2 linked regions of the Homo sapiens genome follow. Each later gene encodes a partner of the first gene's protein in a complex. Each region holds a gene or a part of one and is shown in the gene's direction. Other genes may lie near its edges.

Region 1 (9,219 bases):
TTTAAAAAAAACAAAACAAACAAACAAAAAAATTAGGCATGGTGGCACATGCCTGTAGTCCTAGCTACTTAGGAGGCTGACGTAGGAGGATCGTTTGGACCTGAGAGGTCAAGGCTACAGTGAGCCATGATTGTGCCACTGCACTCCAGCCTGGGTGACAGAGTGAGACTCTGTCTCAAAAAAGAAAAAGGAAATCTGTGGGGTTTGTTTTAGTTTTAAGTAATTCTAAGGACTTTAAAAATGCCTAGTCTTGACAATTAGATCTATTTGGCATACAATTTGCTTGCTTAATCTATGTGTGTGCATAGATCTACTGACACACGCATACATATAAACATTAGGGAACTACCATTCTCTTTGCGTAGGAAGCCACATATGCCTATCTAGGCCTCAGATCATACCTGATATGAATAGGCTTTCTGGATAATGGTGAAGAAGATGTATAAAAGATAGAACCTATACCCATACATGATTTGTTCTCTAGCGTAGCAACCTGTTACATATTAAAGTTTTATTATACTACATTTTTCTACATCCTTTGTTTCAGGGTGTTGATTGCCTTTGCTCAGTATCTTCAGCAGTGTCCATTTGAAGATCATGTAAAATTAGTGAATGAAGTAACTGAATTTGCAAAAACATGTGTTGCTGATGAGTCAGCTGAAAATTGTGACAAATCACTTGTAAGTACATTCTAATTGTGGAGATTCTTTCTTCTGTTTGAAGTAATCCCAAGCATTTCAAAGGAATTTTTTTTAAGTTTTCTCAATTATTATTAAGTGTCCTGATTTGTAAGAAACACTAAAAAGTTGCTCATAGACTGATAAGCCATTGTTTCTTTTGTGATAGAGATGCTTTAGCTATGTCCACAGTTTTAAAATCATTTCTTTATTGAGACCAAACACAACAGTCATGGTGTATTTAAATGGCAATTTGTCATTTATAAACACCTCTTTTTAAAATTTGAGGTTTGGTTTCTTTTTGTAGAGGCTAATAGGGATATGATAGCATGTATTTATTTATTTATTTATCTTATTTTATTATAGTAAGAACCCTTAACATGAGATCTACCCTGTTATATTTTTAAGTGTACAATCCATTATTGTTAACTACGGGTACACTGTTGTATAGCTTACTCATCTTGCTGTATTAAAACTTTGTGCCCATTGATTAGTAACCCCTCGTTTCGTCCTCCCCCAGCCACTGGCAACCAGCATTATACTCTTTGATTCTATGAGTTTGACTACTTTAGCTACCTTATATAAGTGGTATTATGTACTGTTTATCTTTTTATGACTGACTTATTTCCCTTAGCATAGTGCATTCAAAGTCCAACCATGTTGTTGCCTATTGCAGAATTTCCTTCTTTTCAAGGCTGAATAATATTCCAGTGCATGTGTGTACCACATTTTCTTTATCCATTAATTTGTTGATTGATAGACATTTAGGTTGGTTTTCTACATCTTGACTATCATGAATAGTGTTGCAATGAACACAGGAGAGCTACTATCTCTTAGAGATGATATCATGGTTTTTATCATCAGAAAACACCCACTGATTTCTATGCTAATTTTGTTACCTGGGTGGAATAATAGTACAGCTATATATTCCTCATTTTAGATATCTTTGTATTTCTACATACAATAAAAAAGCAGAGTACTTAGTCATGTTGAAGAACTTTAAACTTTTAGTATTTCCAGATCAATCTTCAAAACAAGGACAGGTTTATCTTTCTCTCACCACTCAATCTATATATACCTCTTGTGGGCAAGGCCAGTTTTTATCACTGGAGCCTTTCCCCTTTTTATTATGTACCTCTCCCTCACAGCAGAGTCAGGACTTTAACTTTACACAATACTATGGCTCTACATATGAAATCTTAAAAATACATAAAAATTAATAAATTCTGTCTAGAGTAGTATATTTTCCCTGGGGTTACAGTTACTTTCATAATAAAAATTAGAGATAAGGAAAGGACTCATTTATTGGAAAGTGATTTTAGGTAACATTTCTGGAAGAAAAATGTCTATATCTTAATAGTCACTTAATATATGATGGATTGTGTTACTCCTCAGTTTTCAATGGCATATACTAAAACATGGCCCTCTAAAAAGGGGGCAAATGAAATGAGAAACTCTCTGAATGTTTTTCTCCCCTAGGTGAATTCACCTGCTGCTTAGAAGCTTATTTTCTCTTGATTTCTGTTATAATGATTGCTCTTACCCTTTAGTTTTAAGTTTCAAAATAGGAGTCATATAACTTTCCTTAAAGCTATTGACTGTCTTTTTGTCCTGTTTTATTCACCATGAGTTATAGTGTGACAGTTAATTCTTATGAAAATTATATAGAGATGGTTAAATCATCAGAAACTGTAAACCTCGATTGGGAGGGGAAGCGGATTTTTAAATGATTTCCTGACCAAGCTTAACCAGTATATTAAATCCTTTGTACTGTTCTTTGGCTATAAAGAAAAAAGGTACTGTCCAGCAACTGAAACCTGCTTTCTTCCATTTAGCATACCCTTTTTGGAGACAAATTATGCACAGTTGCAACTCTTCGTGAAACCTATGGTGAAATGGCTGACTGCTGTGCAAAACAAGAACCTGAGAGAAATGAATGCTTCTTGCAACACAAAGATGACAACCCAAACCTCCCCCGATTGGTGAGACCAGAGGTTGATGTGATGTGCACTGCTTTTCATGACAATGAAGAGACATTTTTGAAAAAGTAAGTAATCAGATGTTTATAGTTCAAAATTAAAAAGCATGGAGTAACTCCATAGGCCAACACTCTATAAAAATTACCATAACAAAAATATTTTCAACATTAAGACTTGGAAGTTTTGTTATGATGATTTTTTAAAGAAGTAGTATTTGATACCACAAAATTCTACACAGCAAAAAATATGATCAAAGATATTTTGAAGTTTATTGAAACAGGATACAATCTTTCTGAAAAATTTAAGATAGACAAATTATTTAATGTATTACGAAGATATGTATATATGGTTGTTATAATTGATTTCGTTTTAGTCAGCAACATTATATTGCCAAAATTTAACCATTTATGCACACACACACACACACACACACACTTAACCCTTTTTTCCACATACTTAAAGAATGACAGAGACAAGACCATCATGTGCAAATTGAGCTTAATTGGTTAATTAGATATCTTTGGAATTTGGAGGTTCTGGGGAGAATGTCGATTACAATTATTTCTGTAATATTGTCTGCTATAGAAAAGTGACTGTTTTTCTTTTTCAAAATTTAGATACTTATATGAAATTGCCAGAAGACATCCTTACTTTTATGCCCCGGAACTCCTTTTCTTTGCTAAAAGGTATAAAGCTGCTTTTACAGAATGTTGCCAAGCTGCTGATAAAGCTGCCTGCCTGTTGCCAAAGGTATTATGCAAAAGAATAGAAAAAAAGAGTTCATTATCCAACCTGATTTTGTCCATTTTGTGGCTAGATTTAGGGAACCTGAGTGTCTGATACAAACTTTCCGACATGGTCAAAAAAGCCTTCCTTTTATCTGTCTTGAAAATCTTTCATCTTTGAAGGCCTACACTCTCGTTTCTTCTTTTAAGATTTGCCAATGATGATCTGTCAGAGGTAATCACTGTGCATGTGTTTAAAGATTTCACCACTTTTTATGGTGGTGATCACTATAGTGAAATACTGAAACTTGTTTGTCAAATTGCACAGCAAGGGGCCACAGTTCTTGTTTATCTTTTCATGATAATTTTTAGTAGGGAGGGAATTCAAAGTAGAGAATTTTACTGCATCTAGATGCCTGAGTTCATGCATTCATTCCATAAATATATATTATGGAATGCTTTATTTTCTTTTCTGAGGAGTTTACTGATGTTGGTGGAGGAGAGACTGAAATGAATTATACACAAAATTTAAAAATTAGCAAAATTGCAGCCCCTGGGATATTAGCGTACTCTTTCTCTGACTTTTCTCCCACTTTTAAGGCTCTTTTTCCTGGCAATGTTTCCAGTTGGTTTCTAACTACATAGGGAATTCCGCTGTGACCAGAATGATCGAATGATCTTTCCTTTTCTTAGAGAGCAAAATCATTATTCGCTAAAGGGAGTACTTGGGAATTTAGGCATAAATTATGCCTTCAAAATTTAATTTGGCACAGTCTCATCTGAGCTTATGGAGGGGTGTTTCATGTAGAATTTTTCTTCTAATTTTCATCAAATTATTCCTTTTTGTAGCTCGATGAACTTCGGGATGAAGGGAAGGCTTCGTCTGCCAAACAGAGACTCAAGTGTGCCAGTCTCCAAAAATTTGGAGAAAGAGCTTTCAAAGCATGGTAAATACTTTTAAACATAGTTGGCATCTTTATAACGATGTAAATGATAATGCTTCAGTGACAAATTGTACATTTTTATGTATTTTGCAAAGTGCTGTCAAATACATTTCTTTGGTTGTCTAACAGGTAGAACTCTAATAGAGGTAAAAATCAGAATATCAATGACAATTTGACATTATTTTTAATCTTTTCTTTTCTAAATAGTTGAATAATTTAGAGGACGCTGTCCTTTTTGTCCTAAAAAAAGGGACAGATATTTAAGTTCTATTTATTTATAAAATCTTGGACTCTTATTCTAATGGTTCATTATTTTTATAGAGCTGTAGGCATGGTTCTTTATTTAATTTTTTAAAGTTATTTTTAATTTTTGTGGATACAGAGTAGGTATACATATTTACGGGGTATATGAGATATTTTGATATAAGTATACAACATATATAATCCCTTTATTTAATTTTATCTTCCCCCCAATGATCTAAAACTATTTGCTTGTCCTTTTATGTCTTATAGTTAAATTCAGTCACCAACTAAGTTGAAGTTACTTCTTATTTTTGCATAGCTCCAGCTCTGATCTTCATCTCATGTTTTTGCCTGAGCCTCTGTTTTCATATTACTTAGTTGGTTCTGGGAGCATACTTTAATAGCCGAGTCAAGAAAAATACTAGCTGCCCCGTCACCCACACTCCTCACCTGCTAGTCAACAGCAAATCAACACAACAGGAAATAAAATGAAAATAATAGACATTATGCATGCTCTCTAGAAACTGTCAATTGAACTGTATTTGCTCATCATTCCTACCATCTACACCACCAAAATCAACCAAATTTATGAAAAAAAACAGCCCCAACATAAAATTATACACAGATAAACAGGCTATGATTGGTTTTGGGAAAGAAGTCACCTTTACCTGATTTAGGCAACTGTGAAATGACTAGAGAATGAAGAAAATTAGACGTTTACATCTTGTCATAGAGTTTGAAGATAGTGCTGGATCTTTCTTTTTATAAGTAAGATCAATAAAAACTCCCTCATTCTGTAGAAGTTATGATTTCTTTTCTAAGAGACCTTTAGAAGTCAGAAAAAATGTGTTTCAATTGAGAAAAAAGATAACTGGAGTTTGTGTAGTACTTCCCAGATTATAAAATGCTTTTGTATGTATTATCTAATTTAATCCTCAAAACTTCTTCAATTTAGCATGTTGTCATGACACTGCAGAGGCTGAAGCTCAGAGAGGCTGAGCCCTCTGCTAACAAGTCCTACTGCTAACAAGTGATAAAGCCAGAGCTGGAAGTCACATCTGGACTCCAAACCTGATGCTTCTCAGCCTGTTGCCCCTTTTAGAGTTCCTTTTTAATTTCTGCTTTTATGACTTGCTAGATTTCTACCTACCACACACACTCTTAAATGGATAATTCTGCCCTAAGGATAAGTGATTACCATTTGGTTCAGAACTAGAACTAATGAATTTTAAAAATTATTTCTGTATGTCCATTTTGAATTTTCTTATGAGAAATAGTATTTGCCTAGTGTTTTCATATAAAATATCGCATGATAATACCATTTTGATTGGCGATTTTCTTTTTAGGGCAGTAGCTCGCCTGAGCCAGAGATTTCCCAAAGCTGAGTTTGCAGAAGTTTCCAAGTTAGTGACAGATCTTACCAAAGTCCACACGGAATGCTGCCATGGAGATCTGCTTGAATGTGCTGATGACAGGGTAAAGAGTCGTCGATATGCTTTTTGGTAGCTTGCATGCTCAAGTTGGTAGAATGGATGCGTTTGGTATCATTGGTGATAGCTGACAGTGGGTTGAGATTGTCTTCTGTGCTTTCGTCTGTCCTATCTTCAATCTTTCCCTGCCTATGGTGGTGGTACCTTTCTGTTTTTAACCTGGCTATAAATTACCAGATAAACCCATTCACTGATTTGTAACTCCTTTCAGTCATGCTCTAACTGTAAATGAAGGCTTAAACTGAAGTAGAACAGTTACAAGGTTTTACTTGGCAGAACATCTTGCAAGGTAGATGTCTAAGAAGATTTTTTTTTCTTTTTTTAAGACAGAGTTTCGCTCTTGTTTCCCAGGCTGGGGTGCAATGGTGTGATCTTGGCTCAGCGCAACCTCTGCCTCCTGGGTTCAAGTGATTCTCATGCCTCAGCCTCCCAAGTAGCTGGGATTACAGGCATGCGCCACCACACCTGGCTAATTTTGTATTTTTAGTAGAGGCGGGGTTTCACCATATTGTCCAGACTGGTCTCGAACTCCTGACCTCAGGTGATCCACCCGCCTTGGCCTCCCAAAGTGCTGGGATTACAGGCATGAGCCACCTTGCCCAGCCTAAGAAGATTTTTTGAGGGAGGTAGGTGGACTTGGAGAAGGTCACTACTTGAAGAGATTTTTGGAAATGATGTATTTTTCTTCTCTATATTCCTTCCCTTAATTAACTCTGTTTGTTAGATGTGCAAATATTTGGAATGATATCTCTTTTCTCAAAACTTATAATATTTTCTTTCTCCCTTTCTTCAAGATTAAACTTATGGGCAAATACTAGAATCCTAATCTCTCATGGCACTTTCTGGAAAATTTAAGGCGGTTATTTTATATATGTAAGCAGGGCCTATGACTATGATCTTGACTCATTTTTCAAAAATCTTCTATATTTTATTTAGTTATTTGGTTTCAAAAGGCCTGCACTTAATTTTGGGGGATTATTTGGAAAAACAGCATTGAGTTTTAATGAAAAAAACTTAAATGCCCTAACAGTAGAAACATAAAATTAATAAATAACTGAGCTGAGCACCTGCTACTGATTAGTCTATTTTAATTAAGTGGGAATGTTTTTGTAGTCCTATCTACATCTCCAGGTTTAGGAGCAAACAGAGTATGTTCATAGAAGGAATATGTGTATGGTCTTAGAATACAATGAATATGTTCTGCCAACTTAATAAAGGTCTGAGGAGAAAGTGTAGCAATGTCAATTCGTGTTGAACAATTTCCACCAACTTACTTATAGGCGGACCTTGCCAAGTATATCTGTGAAAATCAAGATTCGATCTCCAGTAAACTGAAGGAATGCTGTGAAAAACCTCTGTTGGAAAAATCCCACTGCATTGCCGAAGTGGAAAATGATGAGATGCCTGCTGACTTGCCTTCATTAGCTGCTGATTTTGTTGAAAGTAAGGATGTTTGCAAAAACTATGCTGAGGCAAAGGATGTCTTCCTGGGCATGTAAGTAGATAAGAAATTATTCTTTTATAGCTTTGGCATGACCTCACAACTTAGGAGGATAGCCTAGGCTTTTCTGTGGAGTTGCTACAATTTCCCTGCTGCCCAGAATGTTTCTTCATCCTTCCCTTTCCCAGGCTTTAACAATTTTTGAAATAGTTAATTAGTTGAATACATTGTCATAAAATAATACATGTTCATGGCAAAGCTCAACATTCCTTACTCCTTAGGGGTATTTCTGAAAATACGTCTAGAAACATTTTGTGTATATATAAATTATGTATACTTCAGTCATTCATTCCAAGTGTATTTCTTGAACATCTATAATATATGTGTGTGACTATGTATTGCCTGTCTATCTAACTAATCTAATCTAATCTAGTCTATCTATCTAATCTATGCAATGATAGCAAAGAAGTATAAAAAGAAATATAGAGTCTGACACCAGGTGCTTTATATTTGGTGAAAAGACCAGAAGTTCAGTATAATGGCAATATGGTAGGCAACTCAATTACAAAATAAATGTTTACATATTGTCAGAAGTTGTGGTGATAAACTGCATTTTTGTTGTTGGATTATGATAATGCACTAAATAATATTTCCTAAAATTATGTACCCTACAAGATTTCACTCATACAGAGAAGAAAGAGAATATTTTAAGAACATATCTCTGCCCATCTATTTATCAGAATCCTTTTGAGATGTAGTTTAAATCAAACAAAATGTTAATAAAAATAACAAGTATCATTCATCAAAGACTTCATATGTGCCAAGCAGTGTGTGCTTTGTGTAGATTATGTCATATAGTTCTCATAATCCACCTTCCGAGACAGATACTATTTATTTTTTGAGACAGAGTTTTACTCTTGTTGCCCAGGCTGGAGTGCAATGGTGCCATCTCGGCTCACCACAACCTCCGCCTCCCAGGTTCAAGCGATTCTCCTGCCTCAGCCTCCTGGGATTACAGGCATGCACCACCATGCCTGGCTAATTTTGTATTTTTAGTAGAGATGGGGTTTCACCATGTTGGTCAGACTGGTCTCAAACTCCTGACCTCTGGTGATATGCCTGCCTCAGCCTCCTAAAGTGCTGGGATTACAGGCATGAGCCACTGTGCCCAGCCGACAGATACTATTATTATTTCCATTCTACCGAGAAGGAGACTAAGGCTCTGATCATTTAAATAAGTTGCCTAAGGTGATGCAGTGATATAAGTAGCAGAGCTAGGAATTGAGCCTTGGTAACTTTAACTCTGGACCCCAAGTCCTTAGCTACTAAGCTTTACTGCATGGGGTTTAGTCAAATTAAGACTTTTGGAATATGAGTTACTTTTGAGATTAGCTTTGTGATATTTTTTGTGCTCATTTGTCCAACAAAGTCTATTTTATTTTCATCTTAATTAGGTTTTTGTATGAATATGCAAGAAGGCATCCTGATTACTCTGTCGTGCTGCTGCTGAGACTTGCCAAGACATATGAAACCACTCTAGAGAAGTGCTGTGCCGCTGCAGATCCTCATGAATGCTATGCCAAAGTGGTAGGTTTATTGTTGGAAAAAAATGTAGTTCTTTGACTGATGATTCCAATAATGAGAAAGAAAAATAATGCAAGAATGTAAAATGATATACAGTGCAATTTAGATCTTTTCTTGAGATGGTTTCAATTCTGGA
Region 2 (9,219 bases), on another chromosome or scaffold:
TTTTTTTTGAGACAGATTCTCGCTCTGTCACCCCAGGCTGGAATGTGGTGGCACCATCTCGGCTCACTGCAGCCTGAACCTCCCAGGCTCAAGCAGTCCTCCCACCTCAGCCAACCAAGTAGCTGGGACCACAGCCCAGCATCATCACACCTGGCTAACTTTATATTTTGTAGACACGGTGTCTCACTATGTTGCCCAGGCTGGTCTTGAACTCCTAGGCTCCAGCGATTCTCCTGCTTTGGTCTCCTGAGTAGCTGAGATTACAGGTGCATACCACCATAACTGGCTAATTTTTTTTTTTCCGCACAATCTCTGTTGCCCAGGCTAGTGTGAAGCAGGGTGATCTCAGCTCGCTGCAACCTCCGCCTCCTGGGTTTAAGGGATTCCGCTGCTTCAGCCTCATGAGTAGCTGGCACTATAGGCACATCCACCATGTCTGGCTAATTTTTATACTTTTAGTAGAGATGGGGTTTCGTCATGGTAGCTAGGCTGGTCTCAAACTCTTGACCTCAAGTGATCCACCCACCTCCGCCTCCCAAAGTGCTGGGATTACAGGAGTGAGCTACCGCGTCTGGCCATACCTGGCTAATTTTTAAAATTTGTTGTAGAGGTGGCATCTCACTATGCTGCCCAGGCCAGACTCAAACTCCTGGCCTCAAGTGATTCTCTCACTTTGGCCTCCCAGGGTGCTGGGATGACAGGTGTGAGCCACTGTGCTTGGCCTTCCTTGCCTTAATGTCCTCATCAGACCCACGCAGCAGCACTTGTCTCTACGCAGCCATCAGAGTCTACGCTCCAGCCACCCAACATAAGCAATCTCCTCCCTCTGGGCATTTGCTCATCCAGTTTCCCCTGGCACCTCTCTGTTCCACCCTTCCCCCTCTCTGCATATACTCCAGCCCTCCTTATTCTTCAAGGTCAGGGCTGGATATCACTTCCTCTGAGAAGCCTTTCCTCAGCTCTGTAGGGCAGAGTTCACTGTTTCCTCCCCGGAGGCCCCCAGATCCCCACTCATTCAACTGTTGGCCAAGAGCATTTGCACTGCCAGGCGCTGCTCTGGGCCTTGAGCAAAGAGGGAAGTGACACACATTCACCCTCTGTGGCTCCCAGGCTGCTGGACAAAGATAGATACCAGCTGGGGATGTGCACAGATATTCATTCCAAGTGCCACAAAGGAGAAGTTGAGACTCAACCAGGTAGTTTTTCTTTAATTGTCTTCTTTCTTTCCTAAGTAGGGAAAATTTCTTTCTTTTTTTGAGACAGAGTTTCGCTCTTGTCGCCCAGGCTGGAGTGCAATGGCGCGATCTCGGCTCACTGCAACCTCCGCCTCCCAGGTTCAAGTGATTCTCCTGCCTCAGCCTCCCGAGTAGCTGGGACTACAGGCGTGCACCACCACGCCTGGCTAATTTTTGTTTGTTTTTTTTTTTTTAGTAAAGACAGGGTTTTACCATGTTGGCCGGGATGGTCTCGATCTTTTGACCTCGTGATCTGCCTGCCTCGGCCTCCCAAAGTGCTGGAATTACAGACGTGAGCCACTGCTCCTGGCCTTTGTTGTTGTTGTTGTTGTTTTTGAGACAGACTCTTGCACTGTCGCCCAGACTGCAGTACTGTGGCGCAATCTTGGCTCACTGCAACCTCCGCCTCCCAGGTTCAAGCAATTCTCCTACCTCAGCCTCCCGAGTAGCTGGGATTACAGGCACACACCACCATGCCTGGCTAATTTTTGTATTTTTAGTAGAGACGGGGGCTTCACCATGCTGGCCAGGCTGGTCTCGAACTCCTGATCTCGTGATCTGCCTACCTTGGCCTCCCAAAGTGCTGGGATTACAGGCATGAGCCACCACTCCTGGCTTAAGGAGGGAAAGTTTCAAACCACACTTAAGTAGAAACAATAGTATAAAACGGACCAGACACGGTGGCTCACGCCTATAATCCCAGAACTTTGGGAGGCCGAGGCAGGTGGATTGCTTGATCCCAGGAGTTCAAGACCAGCCTGGGCAACATAGTAAGACCGCATCTCTACTAAAAACTCAAAAAATTAGCCTGGCATGGTGGTATGTGCCTCTAGTCCCAGCCACTGGGGAGGCTATGGCAGGAGGATCGCTTGAGCTCAGGAGTTTGAGGCTGTAGTGAACTGATTGCAACTCTGCACTCCAGCCCAGATGACAGAGCCAGACCCTGTCTCAAAAAGAAAAAAAATATGGTGGCCAGGTGCAGTGGCTCACGCCTGTAATTCCAACACTTTGGGAGGCCGAGGTGGGCAGATCACTTAAGGTCAGGAGTTTGAGATAAGCCTGGCCAACAGAGTGAAACCCCATCTCTACTAAACATACAAAAATTAGCCGGGTGCGGTGGTGGGTGCTTGTAATTCCAGCTATTCGGGAGGCTGAGGCAGGAGAATCACTTGATCCCGGGAAGCAGAGGTTGCAGTGAGCCGAGATCAAGCCACTGCACTCCAGCCTGGGCAACAAAGCAAGACTCTGTCTCAAAGAAAGAAGGAAAGAAAGAGAGAGGAGAGGGAGAGAGAAAGAGGAAGGAAAGGAAGGAAGGAAGGAAGGAAGCGAGCATCCCATCACTGAGACTTAATAATTATCAACCCATGGTTTTTTGAATTTCACGCACATCCTCACTCACTTCCCCACCCCACTTCACATCAAGCTTTGGTAAATCTCAGACATCACAGTGTTTTTTTCTTTGTTTGTTTGTATTTTGAGATGGAGTCTCACTCTGTCATGCGGGAGTGTAGTGGCTCAGTCTCGGCTCACTGCAAGCTTCGCCTCCCAGGTTCAAACAATTCTCCTGCCTCAGCCTCCTGAGTAGCTGGGATTACAGGTGCCCGCCACCTCGCCCAGCCAATTTTTGTATTTTTAGTAGAGATGAGGTTTCACCATATTGGCCAGGCTGGTCTTGAACTCCTGACCTCGTGATCCACCCACCTTGGCCTCCCAAAGTGCTGGGATTACAGGCATAAGCCACCGCGCCTGGCCAATTTTTGTATTTTTAGTAGAGACGGGATTTCACTATGTTGGCCAGGCTGGTCTCGAACCCTCCACCTCAAGTGATCTGCCCTCCTCAGCCTCCCAAAGTGCGGGAGTCACCGTGCCCAGCCAGACTGTTTTGTTGATAAGTCCTTTAGTATGTAACTCTACTAGGTAAGGGCATTTAAAAAAAATTAATACCAAAACCATCATCACACCTACAACCAATTAACTCTTTAATGGCATCAGATGTCCAGTTTTTGTTCCCATATTCCTGACTGTAAATGTTTTTTAAAGTTTGAATCAGCATCCAGCAAGGTCCACACATTTTGTTGTCTTTTCAGTGTCTTTTTCTGATTGTTGAATTTTTCTTTCTTTCTTTTTTTTTTTTTTTTTCCTTTTTGAGACAGGGTCTTGCTCTGTCACCAGACTGGAGTCCAGTGGTGCAATCATAGCTCACTGCAGTCTGAACTTCCTGGGCTCAAGTAATTCTCCCACTTCAGCCTCCCCAGTAGGTAGGACCACAGGTGCACGCCATCAGGCCTAGCTATTTTTGTTTGTTTGTTTTTTGAGACAAAGTCTTACTCTGTCGCCCAGACTGGAGTGCAGAGGCACGAACTCGGCTCACTGCAACTTCTGCCTCCCGGGTTCAAGCAATTCTCCTGCCTCAGCGTCCCAAGTAGCTGGGATTACAGGCGCAAGCCACCACGCCCTGCTAATTTTTTGTATCTTTAGTAGAGACAGAGTTTCACCATGTTGGCCAGGCTGGTTTCGAACTCCCGACCCCAGGTGATCCACCCACCTCGGCCTCCCAAAGTGCTGGGATTACAGGCGTGAGCCACCGCGCTCGGCCGTATTTTTGTTTTTTTCTTTTTTTTGGAGACGGAGTCTCGCTCTGTCACCCAGGCTGGGGTGCAGTGGCGCGATCTCAGCTCATTGCAACCTCCACCTCCCAAGTTGCACCAATTCTCCTGCCTCAGCCTCCCGAGTGGCTGGGACTACAGGCGCCCACCACCACGCCCGGCTAATTTTTTGTATTTTTAGTAGAGACAGAGTTTCACTGTGTTAGGCAGGATGGTCTCGATCTCCTGACCTCCTGATCCGCCTGCCTCAGCCTCCCAAAGTACTGGGATTACAGGCTTGAGCCACCGCGCCCGGCCGGATTCCAATTTTTTACCAGATAGGTGTTTTGCAAATATTTCTTCCACTCTCTAGGTTGTCTTTTCATTGTTTTAACTGTGCCTTTCACAAAGCAAAAGTTTTTAACTTTGATGAAATCCAGTTTATTCTTTTTTTTTTTTCTATCGTGGATTATGCTTTTGGTGTTTAATCTCAGAAGTAATCACCAAACCCAAAGTCAGCTAGATCTTCTCCTGTGTATTTTAAGAGTTTTAAAGTTTTGCATTTTACAGTTAGGTCTGTGATTCATTTTCAGGTAATTTGAGTTACTTGTGATCTTGAGTGTCTTTTGATTTACAGGTTTCCCATTTTCTTTTTGTTTTTTTTCCCCCTGTAATTGTGGTTTGAAGAAAGTCAGTTTATGTCCTATTGAGTTTCTCCTAGACTGGATTTTGCCCTTTGCATCCTGTGATGTTGCTGGAAATAGTCCTCCTTCTCTTCTTTAAAGGAGCAGCTCCATCTAGAAGCTTGGTCAGATTCTGGTTCAATTTTTATGGCAAGAAAACTTTCTGGGTAGTTGGTGCGTATGTCTGTGTGCATAGGCTGCAAACATCTGCTTGCTTCTGTGCTGTTCTGTGGACCACTGGATTCGGGTGTTGTTATGAAGTTCTTTGTCAGGTTTTCTCCTGATGGTTTTAGCGGATAGCAATGGCCATTGCCTTAATCTTTTTTTTTTTTTTTTTTTTTTGAGATGGAGTCTTGCTCTGTCGCCCAGGCTGGAGTGCAGTGTTGCGATCTTGGCTCACTGCAACCTCCGCCTCCCAGGTTCAAGCGATTCTGCTGCCTCAGCCTCCTGAGTAGCTGGGATTACAGGTGCGTGCCACCATGCCTGGCTAATTTTTGTATTTTTTTTGGAGAGATGGGGTTTCACTATGTTGGGCAGGCTGGTCTTGAACTCCTGACCTTGTGATCCACTTGCCTCGGCCTCCCAAAGTGCTGGGATTACAGGCGTGAGCCACCGCGCCCGGGCTTTTTTTTTTTTTTTTTTGAGAGGGCGTCTCCCTCTGTCACCAGGCTGGAGTGCAGTAGCACGATCTCGGCTCACTGCAACCTCCACCTCCCAGGTTCAAGTGATCCTCCTGCCTCAGCCTCCTTAGTAGCTGGAATTACAGGCACACACCACCACACCCAGCTAATTTTTGTATTTTTAGTACAGACAGGGTTTCACCATGTTGGCCAGGATGGATTTTTTTTTTTTTTTTGAGATGGAGTTTCACTCTTATTGCGCAGGCTGGAGTACAATGGCATGATCTCAGCTCACTGCAACCTCCGCCTCCTGGATTCAAGTGATCCTCCTGCCTCAGCCTCCAGGGTAGCTGGGACTACAGGCATGCGCTGCCATGCCTAGCTAATTTTTATATGTTTAGTAGAGATGGAGTTTCACCATGTTGGCGAAGCTGGTCTTGAACTCCTGACATCAGGTGATCTGCCTGCCTCAGCCTCCCAAAGTGCTGGGGTTACAGACGTGAGCCACCATGCCTGACCTGGTTTGGTATTTTGTTAAACAGAACCAAAGGCCAGACAGATTTTCTGTGCTTGGATTTAGTCTATATTGGAAGTACCTTGAGGCTGAAGGCACGTGGCTGTGAGCACGACACAGGAAGATACAGATTTGCTGAAAAGAATAGTGAACATAAAGCAGAAGCCAGAACTGCTGATGGCCGTCAGCCCGGTCCCTCCATTCCACCTGACGGTGCAGCAAATTCTGCCGACTTGCCAGAGAGGCAGCTCCAGGAGGGAGAAGCTGCTGTGCTTTCCTGAAGCAGCAAATGTGTTTTCTGCTGAGCAACCAAAACCAAGATCCCAGCCAAGACCCACGATTGCCCAGATCCACCCTCCCTGAAAGGAACTTGGGCAGTAATGCCCAGTCCTAGGCAGTTGCTGAAATCTTTGCCTTTTATTTTCTTTTTTGAGCTGGGATCTTGCTCTGTCGCCCAGACTGGAGTGGAGTGCAGTGGCACAGTCATAGCGCCATGTAGCCTTGGACTCCCAAGCTCAAGAGATCCTCCCGCCTCAGCCTTACAAGTAGCTGGGACTATAGGTACACGTCACCATGCCTGGCTAACATTTTCTATTTTTTGTAGAGATGGGGTATTTGTTGCCAAGGCTGGTCTAGAAGTCCTGGGCTTGGCCGGGCACAGTGACTCACGCCTGTAATCCCAGCACTTTGGGAGGCTGAGGCAGGCGGATCACGAGGTCAGGAGTTCAAGACCAGCCTGGCCAATATGGTGAAACCCTGTTTCTACTAAAAATAGAAAAATTAGCTGGGCGTGGTGGTGTGCGCCTGTAATCCCAGCTACTCTGGAGGCTGAGGCAGGAGAATCGCTTGACCCCAGGAGGCGGAGGTTGCAGTGACCCAAGATTGTGCCACTGTACTCCAGCCTGGGCGACAGAGACTCCGTCTCAAAAAAAAAAAAAAAAAAAGGAAAAGAAAGCCTGGGCGTAAGGATCCTTCTGCCTTGACCTCCCAAGTGCTGGAATTGCAGGCATGAGCCATTGCACCCGGCTTTTTTTTTTTTTTTTCTTTGAGACAGGCACTTGCACTGTTGCCTAGACTGGAGTGCAGTAGCGGGATTAGAGTTCACTGCAGCCTCAACCTCCCAAGCTCAAGCGATCCTCCCACCTTACCCTTCCTGAATGGATGGGGCCACAGGTGTGTACCATCACACGTAGTTAATTTTTAAACTTTTTCAGAGACGGGGTTTCTCCATGTTGCCCAGGCTGGTCTTGAACTCCCGGCTTCCAGTGATCCTCCTGCCTCAGCTTCCCAAAGTGCTGGGATTACAGGCATGAACCACTGCACCCAACCTTTTTTCATTCCCTTAACGAAACCTTTGGATGAACAAAAATTCTTAATTTCAGTGAAGTTCAGTTTATCGACTTCAATTTATACATTTTATAAAGTTTATGAATTTTTTTTTTTTTTTTTAGACGGAGTCTTGCTCTGTCGCCCAGGCTGGAGTGCAGTGGCTATACCCAGGTGTGATCATAACTCACTCCAGCCTCAAACTCCTGGGCTCAAGGATTCCTCCTGCCTCAGTCTCCAGAGTAGGTGGGACCACAGGCACATCCACCACACTGGCTAATTTTTTTTATTTGTAGTGGAGACTACGTCTTACTGTTTGCCCAGGCTGGTCTCCAACTCCTGGGTTCAAGTGATCCACCTCATTCTCCCAAAGCGCTGGGATTGTAGGAGTGAGCCACTGCACCCAGCCTGTCTGCTAATATTATGTTTAAGAGTTCTGAATCTTTTTTTAAATTTTTTAAAATTTTTAATTTTTTATTTTTTTTGAGACAGTCTTGCTCTGTCGCCCAGGCTGGAGTGCAATGGTGCAATCTTGGCTCAATGCAACCTCCGCCTTCTGGGTTCAAGCGATTCTCCTGCCTTAGCCTCCTGAGTAGCTGGGATTACAGGTACACGCCACCATGCCTGGCTAATTTTTTTGTATTTTTAGTAGAGATGGGATTTCACCATGTTGGTCAGGCTGGTCTCGACCTCCTGACCTCGTGATCCTCCTGCCTCCACCCCCCAAAGCGCCAGGATTCTAGGTGTGAGCCACCACACCTGTCCTGAATCTATATTTATGAGAGACATTGGCCTTAAGCTCTCTTTTTTTTTTTTTTTTTTTTTTTTTGAGATGGAGTCTCGCTCTGTCACCCAGGCTGGAGTGCAGTGGCGCAATCTCGGCTCACTGCAAGCTCCGCCTCCCGGGTTCACGCCATTCTCCTGCCTCAGCCTCCCAAGTGGCTGGGACTACAGGCGCCGGCCACCACGCCCGGCTAATTTTTTGTATTTTTAGTAGAGATGGGGTTTCACCGTGTTAGCCGGGATAGTCTCAATCTCCTGACCTCGTGATCCGCCTGCCTCGGCCTCCCAAAGTGCTGGGATTACAGGCGTGAGCCACCGCGCCTGGCCAAGTTCTCTTTCTTATAATGTGCTTTGTTGTCAAGATGATGCTGACCTCATAAAATATGCTGGGAGAGTGTTTCCTCTGTTTTATGGCCTGAAGAGTTAGTGTAGGAATAGAATCATTTCTACATTGGAAGAATTCACTAATTGATGTCTTCTGGACCTGGAATTTTAGTTTTTGGAAAGTTTTAAACTATGGATTAAAAATTTTAAATAGGCCGGGTGTGGTGCATCATGCCTGTAATCCCAGCACTTTGGGAGGCTGAGGCAGGTAGATCACAATGTCAGGAATTTGAGACCAGCCTGGCCAATATGGTGAAACACCGTCTCTACTAAAAATAAAAAAATTACCCGGCATGGTGGTGCATGCACCTGTAGTCCCAGCCACTCGGGAGGCTGTGGAAGAAGAAACTCTTGAACCCAGGAAGTGGGGGTTGCAGTGAGTCGAGATCGTGCCACTGCACTCCAGCCTGGGTGACAGAGCGAGACTCTTATCTCAAAAACAAAAGGCTAGGCGTGGTGGCTCACACCTGTAATCCCAACACTTTGGGAGGCCCAGGCGGATGGATCATGAGGTCAGGAGATTGAGACCATCCTGGCTAAGACGGTGAAACCCCGTCTCTACTAAAAATACAAAAAATTAGCCAAGTGTGGTGGTGGGCACCTATAGTCCCAGCTACTCAGGAGGCTGAGGCAGGAGAATGGCGTGAACCCAGGAGGCGGAGCTTGCAGTGAGCCGAGATCGCGCCACTGCACTCCAGCCTGGGAGACAGAGCAAGATTCCATCTCAAAAAAAAAAAAAAAATTTAAATAGTTATAGGACTACAGACGTTTTAAATTTCCTCTTGTGTCAGTTTAGAAGGTTGTATTTATCAGGAATGTGTTCAGTTCATCTAAATTTTCAAATGTGTTGCTGTGGAATTTTTCATAATTATCCTCTATCTTTTTTTTTTTTTCTTTTTTTCTGAGACGGGGTCTCACTCTGTCGCCCAGGCTGGAGTGCAGTGGCACGATCCTGGCTCACTGCAACATCTGCCTCCCAGGTTCAAGCAATTCTCCTGCCTCAGCCTCCTGAGTAGCTGGGACTACAGGTGCCCGGCTAATTTTTGTATTTTTAGTAGAGATGGGGTTTCACCATGTTGGCCAGTGTGG

What was found. The genes of interacting proteins can lie anywhere in the genome.
Region 2: the proteins of ALB (region 1) and FCGRT are in contact, whole or in part, in a crystal structure (PDB 6QIO), measured with the Homo sapiens proteins. Residues at the interface, in NP_000468.1 of Homo sapiens: Arg105 (codon at 2,555), Glu106 (codon at 2,558), Thr107 (codon at 2,561), Tyr108 (codon at 2,564), Gly109 (codon at 2,567), Glu110 (codon at 2,570), Asp113 (codon at 2,579), Asn133 (codon at 2,639), Asn135 (codon at 2,645), Gln441, Ser443, Pro445, Thr446, Glu449, Leu484, Leu487, His488, Thr491, Pro492, Val493, Tyr521, Val522, Pro523, Lys524, Thr530, Phe531, Thr532, Phe533, His534, Asp536; in NP_001129491.1 of Homo sapiens: Arg65, Glu67, Glu69, Gly72, Ala73, Val75, Trp76, Gln79, Val80, Ser81, Trp82, Trp84, Glu85, Lys86, Thr89, Arg92, Asn172, Lys173, Leu175, Thr176, Leu179, Phe180, His184, Glu188, Arg192, Gly195, Asn196, Trp199, Lys200, Glu201.

Annotation. Positions count from the first base shown.
Region 1 is NC_000004.12:73,406,082-73,415,300, forward strand, and holds part of ALB (albumin preproprotein), read left to right. Parts: intron 1-547; coding exon 548-680; intron 681-2,512; coding exon 2,513-2,724; intron 2,725-3,273; coding exon 3,274-3,406; intron 3,407-4,230; coding exon 4,231-4,328; intron 4,329-5,914; coding exon 5,915-6,044; intron 6,045-7,338; coding exon 7,339-7,553; intron 7,554-8,953; coding exon 8,954-9,086; intron 9,087-9,219. UniProt on the Homo sapiens protein: Binds water, Ca(2+), Na(+), K(+), fatty acids, hormones, bilirubin and drugs. Its main function is the regulation of the colloidal osmotic pressure of blood. Major zinc transporter in plasma, typically binds about 80% of all plasma zinc.
Region 2 is NC_000019.10:49,515,004-49,524,222, forward strand, and holds part of FCGRT (IgG receptor FcRn large subunit p51 isoform 1 precursor), read left to right. Parts: intron 1-1,110; coding exon of another isoform or gene 1,111-1,196; intron 1,197-6,691; coding exon of another isoform or gene 6,692-6,810; intron 6,811-9,219. UniProt on the Homo sapiens protein: Cell surface receptor that transfers passive humoral immunity from the mother to the newborn. Binds to the Fc region of monomeric immunoglobulin gamma and mediates its selective uptake from milk.